Regions from separate parts of the Homo sapiens genome. Here region 1 is linked to region 2. Evidence: fine-mapped expression QTL. A gene starts in region 2. The other region holds a variant in brackets. All regions are shown on one strand. Distances are between the middles of the regions.

Region 1 (10,852 bases), 21 kb before region 2:
ACTCTTTACATTTAATTAGAGAAAATCTGTAGGAAGAGCTCGGACTTCAGTGGAACAGAGAGCAGGAACTTGACAAAAAAAAATTATTGGGTTGAGATTTGGAAAAAGAAATAAAAAAAGCTGTAGATGGGATGTACAGAGAGGAAATCTGTTACTAATTTCAGATGTCCTGAATAAAGCTGCTAATAACAAATCATTACTAATTACTAATCTTGTCATTACTATTCCTGGAGATAGTGTTATGGGAAATGGGAATAGCCATGGCAGACAGTATTCTTGTATGTTAGCATTTAGAGTGATTCTGTTTTCCAGCATCGGTCATACAGACGGGTCATCTGGCCAAACTGCAAAAGCTGGACCTGAGCTACAATGACAGCATCTGTGATGCGGGGTGGACCATGTTCTGCCAAAACGTGCGGTTCCTCAAAGAGCTAATCGAGCTGGATATTAGCCTTCGACCATCAAATTTTCGAGATTGTGGACAATGGTTTAGACACTTGTTATATGCTGTGACCAAGCTTCCTCAGATCACTGAGATAGGAATGAAAAGATGGATTCTCCCAGCTTCACAGGAGGAAGAACTAGAATGCTTTGACCAAGATAAAAAAAGAAGCATTCACTTTGACCATGGTGGGTTTCAGTAAACTGATTTCCCATGTCCTACTAAGCTACAAACCATTCTCCAAAGGAAAAGAACATGAACGAATTCCAGAGTCATGAACTGAATTTCAACTTCTGGGCCATTTAATGGGACTTATATTACAAGAGCTTTGTAAATATATATATATATTACATATATATATGTAATATACATATATACACATATATATAATATACATATATAATACACATATATATGTAAATATATATATAATATCTAATATGAGCATGCCATTATTCTCTGTCTATGAAACAAAAATGGCATTTTTCAATGGATTTGTTTTGGATATATAATTAGTTCATTTGCTGTTTAGAAGCCTTGCCAAAAGTGTTTAGATTTTGGTACTGCAACTGCTTTCCTCTTGCCCAGAAATGTTTTGCCTCTTCTTTTCCTACAAGTTAAATGTTCTAAATATAAAGGGGTATGTGTGTGTGTGTGTAATTCTAATGTGAAAGGCACTAGCTGTCTAATAGTTTCATGTATCATTACTATTACTATATGTATCTTAATGTAGTCTATGTAGGTTTTTATCAGAAAGTGTACCTTTCTATGGTTTATTATTTTATATTCTGGTGCCTTTTATCTCAGATATAAACCATGAACAGTAATGATAGTCACTGACATATAAATCTTAGTAAAAAGTGATTAAAAATCTAAAACTCAGTATGAAAAACATATCTTGTTAGAATAAATTAAAACCTTTTATTGTTTAAAAAATTGTTAACATATTGCCTCCAGGCATTTCTTTGAAATGGAATTTGCTTCATAAAACTAATTTAATTCGTTAATGACAGTTTTGTGTTGCTCTAAACTATTTTTGAAATTTTTGATTTTCTTTTGCTAGAGCATGAAAGTCATTGCATGGCAGAGATGTTTGTCTGCACATTTCTATTCTGACAAGCTCTAGTCAAATTATGTTTTGCTTTCTTCTACTACACTAATAATTAGTATTGCAATCACTGCCTGAAAGACATGCAAATGTAAAATCAACACTACTCCAAATTAAAAGGTTTTCAGGATGAGGAGGTTTTGAATGATGTAAAGGGGATATTTTGGGTTACATGATATAAAAGAATACCATGAATATCATGAGCATTCCCATGCATTCCATGAGTATCTATGCATATGCAAAAACCTATGCATGAATGTTCATAGCAGCTTTGTTCACAATAGCAAAAAAACTAGAAACAATGAGTGAAAGGTTAAACAAACTGTGGGACTATGGAATACTCCTCAGCAACAGAAAGGAACAAACCACTGATACATGCCCCCAGTTCGATAGACTTCAGGTGGATTAGGCTGAATAAAAAAGCCAATCCCAGTTACAAACTGTGTGTTTCCATTTATGTGACATTCCTAAAATGACACAATTATGGATCTGGAGAACAAGTTAGGCATTGGGAGAGGAGTAGGCAGTAGGTATGGCTACAGAGGAATAGCACAAGGGAAACTTGTGGCAATGGAACAATTCTATGTCTTGACTGTGATGGTGGCTGCACAAAACTATATGTGACAAAATTGCATAGGATTACACAAACACACACACACAAATGAGTGCACTGTTGATTGTACCAATGTCAATCTTCTGGTTTTGTTATTGTGCTATAGTTATAAAAGAGGTCAGCGTTGAGGGAGGCTGAGTAGTGCCTGGACCTACCTGAACATTTCTTTGGAACTTCCTGTGAATCTATAATTATTTCACAGTAAAAGTTTTAAAAGTAGGCTGGCTGGGTGCAGTGGCTCACGCATGTAATCCCAGCACTTTGGGAGGCCAAGGCGGGCAGATCACTTGAGGTCAGGAGTTCGAGACCAGCCTGGCCAACATGGTGAAACCCCATCTCTACAAAAAAAATATAAAAGTTAGCCAGGCATGGTGGCATGCACCTGTAGTCCTAGCTACTCGGGAGGCTGAGGCATGAGAATTGTTGGAACCTGGGAAATGGAGGTTGCAGTGACCCAATATTGCACCACTGCATGCCAGCCTGGGCAACAGAGTGAGATCCTGTCTTAAAATAAATAAATAAATAAAAGTAGGCAAATAGTATAAAGAACCCCTGCGTACTCATCACCTTATTCTAGTTATCAATGTACGGCCAATCTTGTTTCACTTGTATTCCTACCCACTTTCCCCTCCCCCTCCCATATTATTTAGAAGCAATTCCAAGGTGTTATATCATTTTATCCATAAATATTTCAGTAAAAGTAAGAATCATTTATTTTTACACATAAGTGTAATTTTATGAATAATTTTAATGTAGTAGGCATCTAATTCCTAGATATTTTGTCTTCTTAATCTATCAAGGTCCATTACCCCAATTTATCAATTTACAGGATTATTTCTTTTTTCCCTTTCCTGGTTTTCCTTTTACATCCTTCTTTCCTTTCTTATCTTTTGGAGAGGTCTTTCCTTTCTTTTGTGGTTTTAGTAGTTCACCGAATTTCCCAAATCCTCTCTGTACCATTGTTCCACGCCACCATGCCTGAATCTGAAAACAAGATAAACCCAAATTCAGCATCGGCTGGTATCACAATGAACTGGAAATTGTTAAATCTCTTTATTCTGATACATGGTCTTGAAGACGTGGAGAGAATGGGATGTGATTAGAACTCTAAATTTTATTTTCTATCTTTCTCAATTGGCTAGGCATTCAGACAAATTTTTTAAAAAATGCATTTATTGTTTTTATGTGCCAGTGCCTGTTCTAGACTTTTGGGCAACAGCAGAGAAATAACTGTCTCAACTTTATGGAGCTCACATTCCAGTGAGGAAGAGACAGTACAAAATAAACACATGAATGTTCAATTTGTCAGACGGTGATGAGTGCTATGGAGAGTGACCGCACATGGTGAGGGGATCTGAGTGCCTACGCCCTGCCTTCCTGCTCCTTACTGGGCTGTCTGTGCTCCTGCCTAAAGCCAGCCCTCACTTGTTCCCTGGATCCTATTCCCTCCTACCTACCCAGCAACACCCTTCCTCTAGCAGCAGACTTGTCCAGTGGCTCCCCATTTCTCTCTGAATAGAAGCCAAAGTCCTTATATGGCTTACAAGGCCCTCTCTGATCTGCCTCCCCAATCCTGACCCCTCTAACCTCTTAACTCCCTTTTCCCTGGCTCACTCTGCTCCAGCCATGCGGGCCTCCTCCCTGCTCAGACACATAGGCACAGTTGTGACTCAGGGCCTGTATATTCGCTGCTTTCTTTGCCTGGAACTCTTCTCAGTATTCAGATGGCTCACCCCTCCGCTGCTTCAAGGATTTGCTTGATTGTCATTGCTACGGACTGAACTGTGTTGCCCCAAATTCATATGCTGAAGTCCTAATCCCCAGTGTGAATGAATTTGGAGAAGGGGCTTTGAGGAGATGATTAGATTTATATGAGGTCATAACAGCAGGGTCCTCATGATGAGATTAGTGGCCTTATAAGGAGAGATATCAGAGAGTTAGCACTCTCTAGTGCAATCTCTCTCTCTCTCTCTCTCTCTTTCTGTTATATGAAGACACAGGGAGAAGTCAGCTTCTACAGGCCAGGAAGAGGGCCTTCACCAGACTCCAATCATGCTGATACTCTGACCTTAGACTTCCAGCCTCCAGAACTGTGAGAAAATACATTTCCATTGTTTAAGCCGCCTGTTCTATGGTATTTTGTTGTGGCAGCCTAAGCTAAGACTGCCATTTTTTCAGTGAGGCCTACTCTGACAATCTTATTTAAATCAACCACTTCTCCACCTCCACACACTACTGGCAATTTCAGTTCCCCTTAGGCTAACTTTTTTTTTTTTTTAAACAGTAGCACTCTCTAACATAGTATTTCATTTTATGTTTTCTATTTCATGCTTTTATTTCCCTCCTACTAGATTTTAAGTACTGTGAGGACATAAATATTTGTTTTGTTCACTGATGTATCTCAATGCTTAGAACAGTGTCTGGTGCATAGTAGAAGCTCAATAAATGTTTGTTGAATGAATGAACAAATGAAAGAGGTGGCTGGGGGTATGCTGTTTTATATAAGGTGGATCAAGGAAGGGCTCTCTGATAAGAGAATGTTTAAGCAGAGATGGAATGAAGTGAGGGCCAGAATCTTGCTCATATCTGGGGAAAGCATCTCTGGGCACAGGAAGAGCCAGTGTTAAGGCCCTGAGCCAGGAACATGCTTGGTCCTTGGAGGAACACCAGATCTGCTTGTGACTGAAGTCCAGTGAGAGTAGGAAAGAGGAGATGGGGAGTGAAAACAGCAGACCAATCGGGATCCAGGGAACAGCACTGCTCTCTAGAGGCATTTTGGAAATTTATGGGGCTTTTTGTTGACTTAAGGTTAAGCAGTCTTCAATTGTGTGGCCTATACCCTGGTCTACAAAGCCTTTCCAACAGTGTGCAGGCATGGATAGGTTGAAGACAGTCCATTTCCTGAGCTCCAGCTTCCATATGTACCCCTTCCTAAAATCATCCCGAGAACATAACTGCAGATCCCCCATCCCAGTTGCCCCTGTGATGCTCCACAGAGGAAGGGCACAGCTTGCACCCACCTGAATCTTACTATGGTGCATTGCCCTGGACTCCAAAAATCATTAGGACACACACACACACACACACACACACACACAGAAAAAGACAATTCAAAGTACAAGTGTTGATGAGAAAATGAATGACTCTAGGGACTGGTTAACCAATCCTTTTGCAAGACAGGTGGTTTCTAATTCTACCTTCAAGAAAAATAAGGGAAGCCTAGTTGACATGTCAGCTAAGACCTGCTATCGATTTGGGGGATATAAATCTGGAAGAAGCTCAGAGATGCATGAATCATTGTTTTTTTAAAATAAAACATTACAGGCAAAAAAAGCTTCTTCTGTTCTCTTTAACTCATCTACGTGAACAAGGTTTCTCAAGGCTTTCATCTGTAAAATGAGAAACAGGAGTAGAATCTATAATCAACCCTGTGTTATTCTAATAATCATCAATATTTATGCATGAATATATAAACTATGCTAAAAAAACCCTCTCATTTTGGTACACTGTTCTAAAAAATCCTATATGTCTAATAATTATTAAAATTTGTAAGAAATTTTATGTTGTTTTAGGTGATTTTATACTAATAGTTGTAATGTATATACATTTTTAAATTTTTAAAATTTAATTTATATAAATATTTTTGTCACCTAGAAGTACAAAAGAGCAATCTATGAAAGACTTATATGTGTATACATAAAACCTTAGGATCAATTTTGAGGGGAAAGTAGAATGGAAGTACATGTTTAAGAAGAAAAGGAATATGATATAAAAATTCTGCCTATAAAATAATAACTTGTTTGAGTATTTGTAAATTGGTGTTGACAAATCATAATGATATTCAGTTTCCACTGGATACATTTAAAATATTGATCTAACAGCTCTATTTTAAAATGTCAACATTTAAAATTCACTGGAAATTACATCCTTTGCAATGATTTAAACTTGTGGCCAACAATGTTAAATATCATTTTAAGAACGTGCAAGAGGGTGCACAGTTTTTCAAAATGCTTTTAGGAAGTATTCAATTAAGAACCACAACTTTCATTCTTTCAAGTGTAATCCATCCTGAGCATATACACACTGAAATAATTTATTCATTTATTTTTGGAGACAGCTGTTGCCCAGGCTGGAGTGCAGTGGCACAATCTAGGCTCACTGTAACCCCCGCCTCCTGGGTTCAAGCGATTCTCCTGCCTCAGCCTCCAGAGTAGCTGGGATTACAGGCACGCACCACCATGCCCAGCTAATTTTTGTATTTTTAGTAGAGACAGGGTTTCACCATGTTGGTCAGGCTGATCTCGAACTCCTGACCTCAAGTGATCCACCCGCCTCAGCCTCCCAAAGTGCTGGGATTACAGGCGAGAGCCACCGCGCCAGGCCTGAAATATATATTTGTATATAAATTACTTTTCTTTCTCCTTTAAATTGTAACTCAGGCGTTATTTTGATTAAAATTATGTCCTTTTGTATGTTTTTATTATCTCTGAATTTATTTTGGAATAGTAAAAGAGGTATTACAAAAGATTTATCATAAAAGGGAGGACATTAGGTCTGATAGGGTTGAGGGCTATTGAGAGGGGGTTTTACGGACTGAAGACTTGACTCTTACTCTGAGTGTAATGGAGGATTGCCAATTTCAGTGGAGCATCAGTGCAACTGCTGAGCAGAAGGTATGTTGTGGGGGGCTGG[C/A]ATGCAAGCAGGGACAGTAGTCAGAGGGCTTATGTAGTTATCCGGCTGTGAGATGATGGGGACTTGGGCCAGTTGGAGAATAAAGAACACTGGCTGAAGTGGACACATTCCAGACCTGTCCTACATCTCCATGGGCTCAAAGGGCTAGAGCAGAATTACAAGGATCTCAGCCTTTTGATCCTTATTAATGGCAGCTCAGAACCCTGGGCTCAGCCTCTCATCTATAAACGCTTTCATTTCTAATTTTCTAAACTTATTTTACTACTTTTGTTAATACAAACTTTTTTCATTCCAATGAAATAGTCCACGAATTTTAGATTGTTGGAAATGTTGAAGTTTTGGTTTCCTTTGCCTATTTGTTGGCTTCTTATTGGACAAAGAAATAAGGGACATAAAAGACAAAAATGCTAGGGCTGACATTTAAAAATCTTCTTACTTAGCCCTGGGGACATAAAAGTTACCAAGTAACTTCTCTTTTCAGAAGCAGGACAAGGGTGTAAGGAGTTGCTCCGTAGGATAATCTGTACTGTGTTTACCATTAGACTCCCTCTAAAGCAACTGTTATCAAGAATCTGGGCTGATTTTACCTTTGTTGCCATTATATTCCTGTTTCTGTTTTCCTTGAGGTATTTCCATATGGCCTCATTGCCTTCAGCACACACTTCTTTTGGGGGTTCTTCCATGGGATTGTCCATCAGTGTCAGAACCTTAAGATTCACTAGGGAATCCAAATTCTCTGGAAGATGGGTGAGCAAGTTGTCCTCCAGCCGTAATTCTTTCAAAGCTGAAAAGATTTTTTCGTAATGGTGGTTCAATCTTAGAAGAAACAATATTAACTTGTCACCTAATCCTGTCCACATAGGTGAGGGATCCAATTCTGCATTTGCAAAGGGAATGAGAGGAAGGATGCACAAGACCCGACAAAACTTTTTCTACCATCTAATAAAAGTTCTAGCTCTATGTTTGCTCCTTCTCAAAATGAAGAGAACAGAATTCAGTCTCCAGATATTCCAAATGTTTTGTTTGTTTAGAGCAACAGTTTTTAGCTGAAACTGACAGCCCACTGGGAAAAATCACTCTCAGACCCTGCTGTTCCTAAGGTCAGCAGACTATTGATTTTTTTTTTTTTTTTTTTTTTTGAGACAGAGTCTCACTTTGTTGCCCAGGCTGGAGTACAGTGGCATGATCTGAGCTCACTACAACCTCTGCCTCCCAGGTTGAAGCGATTCAAGTGCCTCAGCCTCCCAAGTAGCTGGGATTTCAGGTGCACGCCACCACACTTGGCTATTTTTTTTTTTTTTTTGAGACAGAGTCTAGCTCTGTCACCGAGGCTGGAGTGCAGTGGCGCCATCTCGGTTCAGTGCAGCCTCCGCCTCCCGGGTTCAAGTGATTCTCCTGCCTCATTCTCCTGAGTAGCTGGGATTACAGGCACCCACCACCAAGCCCAGCTAATTTTTGTATTTTTAGTAGAGATGGGGTTTCACTGTATTGGCTAGGCTGGTTTCGAACTCCTGACCTCATGATCTGCCTGCCTTGGCCTCCCAAAGTGCTGGAATTACAGGCGTGAGCCACCGCGCCTGGCCTACAACTTCTTTATAACAATTCAAAGTTGTTGAAGCCAGTGTCCATAAATATTAGAGACAGAAAAATAGAAAACACTGAAAAATTTTGAGAATATTTCACTCCTCCAGGGACCAAGGACAGGATAAAAATTTATGGTCAGGAGCATTACTAAGGATTACTGCATACAACCCCTTGTCTCCATTTTTTTTTTCTTTTTTTTTTTAAATTTTTTAACTTTTATTAAAACGGAGTCTTGCCCTGTTAACAGGCTAGAGTGCAGTGGTGCAATCTCAGCTCACTGCAACCTCTGCCTCCCGGATTCAAGCAATTCTCCTGCCTCAGCCTCCCAAGTAGCTGGGATTACAGGCACGTGCCATCACACTCAGCTAATTTTGTATTTTTAGTAGAGATGGGTTTTCACCATGTTGGCCAGGCTGGTTTGAACTCCTAACCTCAGGTGATCTGCCCTCCTCGGCGTCCCAAAGTGATGAGATTACAGGCGTGAGCACCGCGCCTGGCCTTGCCCCCAGTTTTTGAATGCCTTATGAGTAGGCATCAGCTTCCACTCTCTCCATTCTTTTTTCATTAAAGAATAACTATAGTTTGGGCCAGGCACGGTGGCTCACGCCTGTAATTCCAGCACTTTGGGAGGCCAAGGTGGGCAGATCACGAGGTCAGGAGATCAAGACCATCCTGGCTAACACAGTGAAACCCCGTCTCTACTAAAAAAAAAAAAAAAAAAAAAAAAAAAAAAAAAAAAAAAAAAATTAGCCGGGCGTGGTGGCGGGCGCCTGTAGTTCCAGCTACTCAGGAGGCTGAGGCAGAAGAATAGCGTGAACCCGGGAGGCAGAGTTTGCAGGGAGCCGAGATCACGCCACTGCACTCCAGCCTGAGCGACAGAGCGAGACTCTGTCTTAAAAAAAAAAAAAAAAAAAAAAAAAAAAAAGAATAGCCATAGTTTGAAAACATGTGCATAAGCCTAGGATTCAGAAAAAAAAAAAGAAACATTTAAAATCTGGTCCCAGTGGGTGCTCAGCAAAAGCATATTAAGTGGATGGATGAATGTACAGACAAAGAATGGCTTAGTGTAGTGGAAAATGTTTGGCTATTTAAGTAGGAATCATATATAGTTTTCCAGGTCAATTATGTAGCTCCAAGAAAGTCTCCTGCTAATTTCACCACTCTGGGCCAATACTTTTTCTTTTACTCAAGTGACTCCGTGACCTAGATGAAATTTACTGCAGGATCCCAACTCCAAATTCTGGCATGTAGTAAGTGTACAGTAAATTATTGTTGGTAGTGTAATAAATGTATGGGTAAATGCTAATTTTCTTAGCAGTCGCTATTTACCTTTCCATTTTAATAAATGACTTAACTGCCTTTGCAAGACTCTTAGCTATACTAATCAGGACACCTGGCCTCCCCCATGTCGCTAAGTGAGCCCTGCAAGGAAGTAATGGGATAGACTCAGTTCTCTGAACACTGAGATAGGTCTTTAGCAAAGCAAGGAAGCCATTTGCCATAGGAAATGCTGGCCACAAACTCTGCTAGGCTGTGAATCTACTAAGTTTCCTCACCTTGTGCTTGGCAAATGGCATCTGGAAGTTGCTTAAGCAAATTGTGCCGGCAATCAAGAACTTCTAGGTTAGGCATTGACCCCAAGGATACGGGCAGGTACTCCAGATGATTGTTCTCTATATATAGCTCTTTGAGACTCTGAAATAACATGAGTGTACCATAATAATATACCTTGATTAATTAATTATAATAACCAGAATCACCTGTGGGTGCTCATGCATTTTTTTTTTTTTTTTTTTTTTTTTTTTTTTTCACTTTCAGTGGGGAAATTACGCATTGAGTTAAGGGAAAAAGCATGTCTAAAGGACCATCATCAAGACCCAAAATTATTTTTGAGTAAATCCATTAGACTTAGTTTCCATTTATGCAGGGAAAAGAGACTACAGACATCTAGTGCTTATTTGTTTCACCAGAACTTTATGGAAAAATAATTTGAATAATTTAACTACATTTATCATTAACTCCTTTTTTAATAGCTAATTGTCTGTGGCAGTTGCTACAGAATGATAATTGCCTCAACTATCAACCCAATATTGCCTCAGTGAAAGTAGCCAAAATGCACAGGGAATGGATTTGAATGTATTCAAAATAACTATTTTCAACTTCACTGGGCAAAAATCTAATGTTTGTACTTCACCCTAAGATTGTGGCATGACAGGTACAAAGGAAAAGCTGATGAAAGGTGTTCTATGAACACAGGGCAAAGGAATGGAGAATTAGGAAGAGACACCCTGTGTCATAGTGAGAACTACCTATGCTGTGCATGGCATTGCATGACTGGGGTTATGTGGTGGCCCACGCCTACTTTATCATCATTAAGAGTGCAGCAGGTCAGACACGGTGGTTTATGCCTATA
Region 2 (11,314 bases):
ACACAACCTCACCTAGATTTTTAACATCACTCGTTTACAGGAAACCTGGCACTTATTAAAATCATTCTTCTCGGGTGTGAAATTTTAGACTTGATTTTATTGTGCAGCATTACAACAAAGTCAACTGGGAGAAATTTATGTGGATTAGAATTAATATGAGGGTGTCTGGGCTTCCAGACACATGAAATAACTTATTTCTCTTAGCATTCATCTTTCTCCATAATAAGACCTGCTTAGAATATCTGATTGTGTGTGTATGTTATCTCACCTTAATCATATACCCCATCAATTTGACGGCCCTCTGAAAGCTATATATATACACCCATATTTCACGTTCATTTGTGGATTTAATAAAAGGAGATTGTAAAACCCAGATTTGCAATAGCTTTGCCAGTAATTCTGCCACAGTAATTGAGAAAGGGGAAGATTTGGTCTTTATTGGCCATTTTTTCTCTAGGGATTGCTACACAAATGTGATCAAATTTACTTATTATTACAATCCAATATTATGGTCGGGTGATTTTTAAATTAAATAATTGTTACATCTTCATTTGAAGGAGCCAAGATTTGGATAGTTTAACAATTAGCTTTCTTTGTGTAACTCTAACCCCTGAGAAAATCATTTAAGAAACTAATCAGCCCTCTCAAATTTACAGTGAGTGTTGATGCTTTTGTTTCCAAGTCTGTCTATGCACAAACTAGATAGGTAAGACTAGGTTCCTGAGGTTAATATGGTGTGTGACTCTCTCTGTTAGCATAAAAACCCATTTCTAGTTAAAAGAATTTCAAGATTTTGCTTAAAACTTCACTCAGCAGAACTTCTCCTTCTAAAAACTGGTGAATCACAAACAAACTAAAAGTAACCTTAATTGACTTCAGACTGGATATTCATGTAATGGTAATAAAGAGTGGCAGAATATGCCACTCCAAAATATGCCACTTTGGTATGAGGATTACTTTAAGCTAAAGACACTTGAAAAATAGCAGATGCAATAAGTGTATTCTAATCTTCCCTTTCTCGCCTTGAAAACAGGAAATAAAACCTTCCATGTGAAACATGCCTTCCCTATACCAGAAAGAAAATTCTTCAACAGGGAGTCATAGCTGAGAGAATTCTGTACAAATACATCTTGTTAAAAAAAAAATTCCTGGAGGCAGAGCAAGATGGCTGAATAGAACCCTCTAGCAATCATCCCCTCCAACAGGAACACCAAATTGAACAACTATTCACACAAGAAATCATCTTCATAAGAACGAAAGATCAGGTTTGCAATCACAGTCCCTGGTTTTAACATCATAGCAAAGAAAGAGGCACTGAAGAAGGTAGGAAAGACAGTCCTGGATAGTCAGAACCATCCCTCCTCCAACCCCCAGAGCAGCCATGTGGCACAGAGAGAGAATAAGTGTGCTTCGGGGAGGGAGAGGAAAGTGACTGTGGGGCTTTGGAATGGACTTCAGTGCTGCCTGTCACAGTGGAAAGCAACATCGGGTAGAATTCAGGTGGTGCTCATGGAGGGAGCATTTAGACCAGCCCTAGCCAGAGGGGAATTGTCCATGCCAGTGGGTGGAACGTGAGTTCTGGCTAGCCCCACCACTGTGGGATAAAGTGCTCTGGGGGTTCTAAATAAACTTGAAAGGCAGTCTAGGTCACAAGGACTGCAATTCCTGGGCAAATCTTGATGCTGTGCTGGGCTCTGAGGAATTGCTCTTGAGGTGCTAAATGGATTTTAAAAAACAAGACCCAATGATCGATCTGTGGCCCACAAGAAATACATTTCACCTATAAAGACACACATAAGCTGAAAATAAAGGAATGGGAAAAGATATTCTATGCAAATGGAAAACAAAAAAGAGCAGGAGTAGCTATACATATATCAGACAAAATAGATTTCGAGACAAAAGCTATAAAAAAAGACAAAAAAGGTCATTATATAATGATAAAGGGGTTCATTCAGCAAGAGGATATAACGATCATAAATATACATGCACCCAACACTGGATCACCTAGTTATGTAAAGCAAATATTACTAGAGATAAAGAAAGAAATAGACTCCAGTACAATAATGGCTGTTGATTTCAGCATTGGATACTTTCAGCATTGGAGAGATCAAGACAGAAAACCAACAAAGCAGCATTGGACTTAATCTGCACTATAGACCAAATGTACCTAGATATTTACAGAACATTTCATCCAACAGCTGCAGAATACACATTCTTTTCCTCAGCACATGGATCTTCTCAAGGATAGACATATTTTAGGTCACAAAACAAGTCTTAAAAATTTTCAAAAATATCAAAATCATATTAAGTATCTTCTCTGAGCACAATGGAATAAAACTAGAAAGCAATAACAAGAGGAAATTTGGGAATTGTACAAACACGTGGAAATTAAACAACATGCTCCTGAATGACCAGTGGGTCAATGAAAAAATTAAGAAAATTAAAAAATTTATTGAAACAAATTAAAATGGAAACACAACATAACAAAACCTATGGGATACAGTGAAAGCAGTACTAACAGGCATGTTTATAGCAATAAGTGCCTACATCAAAAAAGCAGAAAACTTCAAATAAACAATGTAATGATGCATCTTAAAGAACTAGAAAAGTAAAAAACCAAACTCAAAGTTAGTAGAAGGCTGGGAGTGATAGCTCACGCCTGTAATCCCAGCACTTTGGGAGGCTGAGGCAAGTGGATCACCTGAGGTTGGGAGTTCAAGACCAGCTTGGCCAACATGGTGAAACCCTGTCTCTACTAAAAATATAAAAATTAGCCAAGCATTGTGGTGTGTGCCTGTAATCCCAGCTACTCAGGAGGCTGAGGCAAAAGAATCACTTGAACCCAGGAGGCAGAGGTTGCAGTGAGCTGAGATCATGCCACTGTACTCCATCCTGGGCAACAGAGCAAAACTCTGTCAAAAAAAAAAAAAAAAGTAGAAGAAAAGAAATCACAAAAATCAGAGCAGAAATAAATGAAATTAAAATAAAGAACAATGCAAAAAAATTAATAAAATGAAAAGTTGGGTTTTTTGAAAAGATGAATAAAATCAATAAACTTTTAGCCAGATTAAGAGAAAAAGAGAGAAGATCCAATAAATAAAATCAGAGATGAAAAAGGAGATATTACAACTGATACAGTAGAAATTCCAAGGATCAACTATATGTTAATACATTGGGAAACCTAGAAGAAATGGATAAATTCCTAGATATATACCATTTACCAAGATTGAACCATGAAGAAATCTGAAACCTCAATAGACCAATAGCAAGTAAAAAGATCAAAGTCATAATAAAAAGTCTCCTAGCAAAGAAAAACCTGGGACCCAATGGCTTCAATGCTGATTTTTATCAAACATTTAAAGAAGAACTAATACCAATCCTACTCAAGCTGTTCTGAAAAATAGAGGAGGAAAAACTACTTCCAAATTCGTTCTATGAGGCCAGTATTACCCTGACACCAAAACCAAAGACACACCAAAACAAACAAACAAGCAAACCAAAAAACAGAAAACTGTAGGGCAATGTCCCTGATGGATCTTCTCAGCGAAGATCCTCAACGAAAATGCTAGCAAACTGAATTCAACAACACATTAAAAAAATCATTCATCATGACCAAGTGGCATTCATCTTAGGAATGCAAGGATGGCTCAACATACACAAATCAATCAATGTGATACAACCTATCAACAGAATGAAGGACAAAAACCATATGATCATTTTAATTGATGCTGAAAAAGCATGTGATAAAATTCAACATCACTTCATGATAAAAGCCCTCAATAAACTGGGAGTAGATGGAAGATACCTCAACACGATAAAAACCATATTTGACAGGCCCGTAGGTAGTATCATACTGAATAGGAAATACTGAAAACCTTTTCTCTAAGATCTGGAACAATATAAGGATGCCCACTTTAACCACTATTATTCAGTGTAGCACTGGAAGTCTTAGCTAGAGCAATTAGAGAAGAGAAAGATATAAAGAGCATCCAAACTGGAAAAGAAGAACCCAAATTATCCTTGTTTGCAGATGATATAATCTTATATTTGGAAAATCCTTAAGACTCCACCAAAAAAAATTATTAGAATGGATAAACAAATTCAATAAAGTTGTAGGATACAAAATCAACATATAAAACTCAGTAGCATTTTTATATACCAACAGCAAACAATCAGAAAAAGTAAGAAAATAATCCCATTTACAGTAGCTACAAATAAAATAAAATACCTAAGAACAAACTCAACCAAAGAAGTAAAAGATCTCTACAATGAAAACTATAAAACATTGAAGTAAGAAATTAAAGAGGACACACACACAAAAAAAGGAAAGATATTTTATGTTCTTGGATTAGAATAATAATTATTGTTAAAATGTCCATTTTATCCAAAGCAATTTACAGATTATATACAATTCCTATCAAAATACCAAAGACCTTCTTCACAGAAATAGAAAAAATAATCCTAAAATTTGTATGAAACCACAAAAGATCCAGCATAGCCAAAGCTAACCTGAGCAAAAAGAACAAAACTGGAGGAATCACATTACCTAAATTAAAATTATATTGCAGAGCTAAAGTAGCCAAACTAGCATGGTACTGGCATAAAAATAGATACATAGACCAATGGAACAGAATAGAGAACCCAGATATAAATCCATCATCTACAGTGAACTCGTTTTTGACAAAGGTATCAGTAACATATATTGGGGAAAAGATAGTTTCTTCAATAACGGTTCTGGGAAAACTGGATATCCATATGCAGAAGAATGAAACTACACCCCTATCTCTTGCCACATACAAAAATCAAATCAAAATGGATTAAAGGGCCAGGCATAGTGCCTCACGCCTGTAATCCCAGCACTTTGGGCGGCAGAGGCAGGTAGATCACTTGAGGTCAGGAGTTTGAGACCAGCCTGGCCAACATGGTGAAACCCTGTCTCTACTAAAAATACAAAATTAGCTGGGCGTAGTGGGGGGCGCCTGTAATCCCGGCTATTCTGGAGGCTGAGGTGGGAGAATTGCTTGAAGCTCGGAGGCAGAGGTTGCAGTGAGCCAAGATCAGGCCACTGCACTTCAGCCTGGACCACAGAGCGAGACTCTGTCTCAAAAAACAAACAAACAAACAAACACCCCAAGACCCTAGTAGGCACAGACACAAGCGGCTGGATGTTGAGAGGAACACACCGGCGGAGGAGCACACAGGTGGCTGGACATTGAGAGGAACAGAGGAGCAGAAGAGCACACCGACAGGCACCAGCGGACGCTGCCAGGTCACCGACAAGCAGCACGATGTGTAGACCGAGGGGAATTTGGCCAGGGCAGTCAGTGGAGAGTCTGGCTGCTGAGCGGCCGGACTCCAGGGGAAAACCACCTTTCCACTCCATTCCCTTTCTGGCTCCCCATCCATCTGTTGAGAGCCACTTCCACCAATCAATAAAACCTTGCACTCATTCTCCAAGCCCACTGTGTGATCCGATTTTTCCGGTACACCAAGGCCAGAACCCCAGGAAACAGAAAGCCCTCTGTCCTTGCGGTAAGACAGAGGGTCTAACTGAGCTGATTGACGCAAGCCGCCTATACACAGCAAAACTGAAAGAGCACCCTGTAACACACGCCTACTGGGGCTTTGCTTCAGCAGCTGTAAGCATTCACCCCTAGACGCTGCGGTGAGTTCGGAGCCCACGTGCCCCACAACCTGCCCGTCTGCATGCTCCCCCTAGAGGTTTGAGCAGCGGAGCACCAAAGAAGCAAGCCACACCCCCATTGTTACCGGTAGAAGGTGTCCAGGTTCTTGGCGTCTTGAACAAAGAATTGGACAAAACGCACAAAGCAAGGAAGGAATGAAGGGATTTACTGAAAATGAAAGTATACTCCACAGTGTGGGAGTGGGCCGAGCACAGGGGCTCAAAGACCCCGTTACAAATTTTTTGGGAGTTTAAATATCCCTTAGAGGATTCCATTGGTTACTTAGAGTACGCCCTGTGTAAATGAAGAGGATGAAGTAAGGTTACAAAGTCGTTTATGGTGTACACCCTATGGAGAGGATATTTCCTGTTATAGCCGAAGTGCGAATCGGCCTTATGTTCCCTACCTCCAGACCCTATTTTCCTGCCTCACCATCGCATGCCCTGCAAGGGGGATAAGGAAACTATTACCATTTCAGTATCAAGGAAATGAAACTTACCAGATCGTCACATCTGGACAATGAGACACCAGATCCCTCACCCACCATGATTCCCTAAACGACCACCTGATTCCTGTTGACCAACTCCTCTTCCTTACCCCTCCCTAATTCCTGATTTCCTGCAAGTAGTCACATTTCTTTCTTGCTATGTAAACCCTTGATTCTAGTTGGTTGGGGAGACAGATTTGAGACTGATCTCCTCGGCTGCAGCACCAGATTAAAGCCTTCCTCCCTGGCAATTCTCATTGTTTCAGTGATTGGCATTCTGTGCCAGGAGCAGCTGGATCTAGACGGAACCCCTGGCCTTTTAGTAACACATGTGGATCTGGCCCTGCCCGCCTCCCCGCTGTCTGTACTGATCTGAGTACATTCAAGTACCTGCGCATGCCCAGAACGCACCAAGCATTCTGTCCTCTGGCAGCCTCCTTCGGACCATCCAGATGTCACCTCCTTCAGGAAGCCCTCCCTGGTGGCCCCGCCCTTTGGGAGCACAAAACCCTTTATGCTCCCAAAGCCCAACGCCTTTATCATGTGCTGATGCTACTCTGCTTCTTCGCTGGCCCGGCAGGCCGGTGCACACTTTGTAGGAGCGGGCTTTGTCATAATCTTCTTTGTAGCCCCAGCCCTAGCTCAGCAGCGGAGCCCCTCAAACCTCGGGAACTCCTCCCTGCAAAGGAGCCAGGACGCCCTCCCTCAGGCTGCCTTTAACCAGGGCAGGGTGACAAAGGACCTCCACAGAGTAGGCGGTCACTGCCTTAGCAGTGAGGCCTCAGGGCCCGGGCAGGCACAGCCAGCGGGACTCGAAGCAGGCTGGCGCCGAGGCTCGTGTAGCCGCCTCACAGCTGCAGGCGGACTGTAAGTGCGCGCGCGGTCGCCATGGCAGCGCAGCCGCCGCGGCCAGTGGGTGAGAGGAGCATGGGGAGCTCCCGGGAGGCCGCCCGTGCGCCGGCCAGGTCCCCGGCTTGGGCCTCCACTCAGGCCAGTACTCCGGGCGCGGCCCTGGCGGTCCAGCGCGGTAAGAAGTAGGGAGCACGTCTGCGCGGCCTGGCCCAGACAAAACGCGCGAGGGGCGCCGGGGTCGCACGGCAGGAGTCCTCCCAGCAGCCCGCCAGCCCAAGGCGTCGAGGCGGGAGGGGGGCCCCTGGGAACCCCAGCTGTGGCCAGAGGTTTGGGGCGCCCAGAAACGAGGGCAGGAGAAGAGTCCCCGGTCGCCCTTTGCGACCGGGGGCAGGAGAGGAGTCCACGGAGAGGAGTTCCCGTGGGTCCGCCCTTTGCGCGATAGGTTGTGCAGATGGTGTCTGTCGCCGTGCTCTCAGGGTCTCCGGGAGGGGGTGGCGGGGGGGCTCTTCTCAGCCCCCTTTTTGTGAAAGTCCCAGAGAGCAGGTCACAGGGGGGCATGAGGGTCTTGATACTGTTTCTGACTTTGCACCTCTGTACTATCTCCGTTTTAAATATTTCTGCGCCCATGATTAGCAAGTTAAGCACCTACCCTGAACGGCCACCCCCTACCCGCCATTTCCGTTTTATATGCTGGTTTTAAAGTCTGTTTGTGGATACGGAACTGTGTTCGGAGGCTGGCTTAATAATACTGCATCCAGGAGATGGGCAGTGTTAGGCTCTGCCTTTAGCATGAGAGGAAATTTAAGCTGGCATAACAACTTGTTCAAATGTACACACTGCGGATTCTGGATAGGGCACCCACGTTCTGACTCATGCTTATCGCTTAGATTTCCCAGTGCTTGGCTAAGTATAGAAAAGCATGTTTTGGAGGGATCTACCTCCTAAGTAAGTCCTCTCTCTGGAAATTGTTAAAACGTGGCTGCCAGAGGCGTGGATGAAAAAATGAAATTTGGGTTAGGTTCTTGACATTTTCCTGCGTAGCTGGGTTATTTCCTAGTTTTTGCTTTACAATTTGAAGGCTATTTTCCTTCTAATATGAATACAATATAGGAAATAAATTCATTGGTGCCACAAAATCCTGGCATACAAAATACGTAGGTGAATTTTAAATCAAAGGAAGGGTAGCAGAAACTTTTAAATACTGTAAATCTCTGGCTAGCTTGTTAAATAAGAATATTTCCATAACTTTGTTTAGCTGTATTTAGCTCGTAGTCTAAGATTCCTTCATGCCTTCGCGAAAATGAATTGTAGTCTGACACATTTCTGTGCCCTCGGAGATTCTCAGGGCAATTTTTCTCTTAATACCAAGGAAGACAGTAGGGAAGAAAGAAGCCCAGTGGGAGCCCAGCTCCAACTTCTATTTGGGATCTACTTGCTTTGTTTCCTGGGGAGGACGCTAAAGCAGCATTTTCTAGATTGCATTCCAAGTGAGGTTTTTGTTTTGTTTTGTTTTTGAGATGGAGTCTCCTCTGTCGCCCAGGCTGGAGTGCAGTGGCGCGATCTCTGCCCACTGCAACCTTGTAACCTCCACCTCCCGCATTCAAGCGATTCTGTCGCCTCAGCCTCCGAAGTAGCTGGGACTACAGGCATGCGCCACCACACCAGCTAATTTTTGTATTTTTGGTAGAGATAGGGTTTCACCATATTGGCCAGGCTGGTCTCGAACTCCTGGCCTCAAGTGATCCGCTCGCCTCGGCCTCCCAAAGTGCTGGGATTACAGGCGTAAGCCACCGCACCCGGCCGGAAATGCAGCATTCTTATCCTCCCTATTCTCAAGCTTAACAGTTTGCAGAGTGTGCACGTTTTAAATGCCCTGAGAAGTGTTGTGTCTGTGTATAGTTTTGTTTATTTTAGTACTTCTCAGACTTACTTGATAATAAGACCTATTCTATTTGGAACACCTTTGATCATCCTGTAGAACATGCATATTCCACAAAATACAGTTTGGGAAATATTGTGCTACAATATCATTTAAATACATGAAAATTTTCTAAAATAGGTGAAGCTTTTTTTAATACGTACATCTATCCACATGACAGAAATTATGCTATTTAAATTTTTCAGAGAATATCTAGTGACATGGGAAAACTGCTTACAATATAATGTTAATTTAAAAAACAGCATATAAAGTTATATCCAAAGATTCCAATTTTGTTTAAAAAATACTTAATATGCATATAAAAGAAAAACTATAGGAAGTATGTATGCCTAGACCTCAATTGTGGTTGTTCTTTGGCAGTGGGATTGCAGATTAACATGTATTTTTTTTTAATGTTAGAAATTTCCGGTCGGGCTCAGTGGCTCACCTGTAATCCCAGCACTTTGGGAGGCTGAGGCAGGCTGATCACTTGAGGTCAGGAGTTTGAGACCAGCCTGGCCAACATGGTGAAACCCCGTCTTTATAGCTGGGTGTGGTGGTGTGTGCCTGTAGTCCCAGCTACTCGGGAGGCTGAGGCAGGAGAATCGCTTGAACCCGGGAGGCAGAGGTTGCAGTGAGCCGAGATTGCGCTCCTGCTCTCCAGCTTGGGTGGCAGATCAAGAACCTATCTCAAAAAAAAAAAAAAAAGAAATTTCCAAATTGTCTGGAATAAGTATATTAAATTTATTTTTAAAAAGGTTATTAAAAACTATAAGAAAATTTTGTTTGCTTTCATCTGAAATGTAATGTTCCTCATGTTAAATCTCGTTCTGCAGATCCGTTTAGCAAACTCATTATTCTTCAGAGTGCAAAGGACACTCAGTAAACAACATTTCTGAGATGTAGAGACTTAGAAGAGAAGCCAGCTCCTAAAAAGCTAGGCTGGTTGAGCAATGAGATCTCTGTGCACAAATTTTTAAAAGACATCCACAAAAGGTAGATGTATAGAAAACAAAGACAGTGGCCTGTACTTCTAAGAAAAGTAACAGCATAACTTCCACCCCAGAAGATGTAGGCCTTGCAGAAGATGCTTTTGAGGTATTACTGAGAACAGCAAGGTCATTAAGGAAATCTGCATGTATAACAGAAAGGAGATCTCAACTCCTGCTTTGTGTCTGTCTTCTTAAGAACTTAGGGAAAAGTCACCTTTAGAAAGAGGAAATGGAAGGCTGGGTAGGAGAAGAGCTTCTGTGAGCCAGGCCTCGATTTGGTATGAAGAAATGACAGTTACATTCAAACTTGGGATGGTGTAGAGGGTATCCAAGAAGCTTGTGGGAGTAGGTGCTTTATCAGATCCCTTTTGAGTTAGGTTATTAGATAAAATTGTTTTTATGTGAAGCTATTTTAAGAAACCTTTTCCTCTCGTGGATGCTGAGATACTGAGTTGAAAAAAAAAAAAAAAAAAAAGAAACCTTGAGTCCCTGTAACCCATTAGGGCACAGTGGAAAGAGGTTTTGGAATCAGTTTGATTCTGCACTCTGCCTTTATTAGCTGCATGGTTTTGGACAAAATATACAATTTCTTTGGAAGTCATTTTCCTCAGCTACCAGGCCTGGCACATAATGGAGCTTAGTTCTCCCTTTATGTCACTTCCAACGTAGGGTGCTCACTTGAGCCAGTGTCTGCCAAGCCTCAATGGGTGCTTCAATGGCCCTAGTTCTCCAAACAGCATTTTAATTATCTCTCCCATTCATTATTTTTATTTCTCTTCTCTTTTTCTAACCTTAATTCTGTTTCCTTTTCTTCCCTACCCCCACTATACACACATACAACTCATATATTTGAAAGAGGTAGTTTTTATGGTTTTTTTTAAAGCTTCTAGAATAATTTATATGTGATAGAGGATGCATATATTTTTCAGAATCTCCAGAATCTGGTCTCCAGAAACATTATTCTAATCTGTGTATGGAAAAATCCCAGAAAATTAATCCTTTTATATTGCATATACTCCAAGAAGTGGATGAAGAAATTAAAAAGGGGTAAGAAAGACAAATACTTGATTACATTAATAGTGTTTGCTTATATTCATGTGTGTGAAAATCCTAACATATTGAGTGATTTTATAGCCATTTGAAAATGCTTGGTAAAATGAACATACCATTTGATTCAGGTAAGTAAGTACACGAGCAACACTGTTAGTAGGTCTTAGAGGTGGTATAGTATTCAGGAAAGAGCACTAGACCAGGAGTACCCAAGCTTGGGCTCCAGAGTGATCTTTAACTTCTGTGGGTGGGGTGAATCTTTTTTTTTTGTTTGTGGGCAGGGTGAATCTTTTTTTTTTTTTTTTTTTTCTGAGATGGTGCCTCCCTCTGT

Evidence for each region. PIP is the estimated chance that this variant, and not a neighbour inherited with it, causes the effect. A credible set is the group of variants that fine-mapping cannot tell apart.
Region 1: its variant is the best candidate, but not a certain one, in a credible set for the expression of LRRC34 in whole blood (TOPMed, PIP 0.70).

What each region holds. Positions count from the first base shown.
Region 1 is chr3:169,829,774-169,840,625 of GRCh38, reverse strand. It overlaps LRRIQ4 (leucine rich repeats and IQ motif containing 4), which reads right to left. Exons shown (of 6, transcript NM_001080460.3): 4 at 9,996-10,134; 5 at 7,443-7,639; 6 at 2,853-3,147. The coding sequence ends at 2,995. It overlaps LRRC31 (leucine rich repeat containing 31), which reads left to right. Exons shown (of 9, transcript NM_024727.4): 9 at 313-1,454. The coding sequence ends at 644. Among named protein-coding and RNA genes, the nearest start is that of LRRC34, 22 kb to the right of the region's middle. RefSeq lists an enhancer at 4,251-4,330. The variant C/A (reference allele first, on the strand shown) is at 6,856.
Region 2 is chr3:169,808,294-169,819,607 of GRCh38, reverse strand. It overlaps LRRC34 (leucine rich repeat containing 34), which reads left to right and starts at 6,704. Exons shown (of 11, transcript NM_001172779.2): 1 at 6,704-7,198; 2 at 10,863-10,980. The coding sequence starts at 7,060. It overlaps LRRIQ4 (leucine rich repeats and IQ motif containing 4), which reads right to left and starts at 6,738. Exons shown (of 6, transcript NM_001080460.3): 1 at 6,562-6,738. RefSeq lists enhancers at 5,100-5,149, 5,440-5,539, 11,052-11,196, a silencer at 7,030-7,329 and a cis regulatory region at 11,124.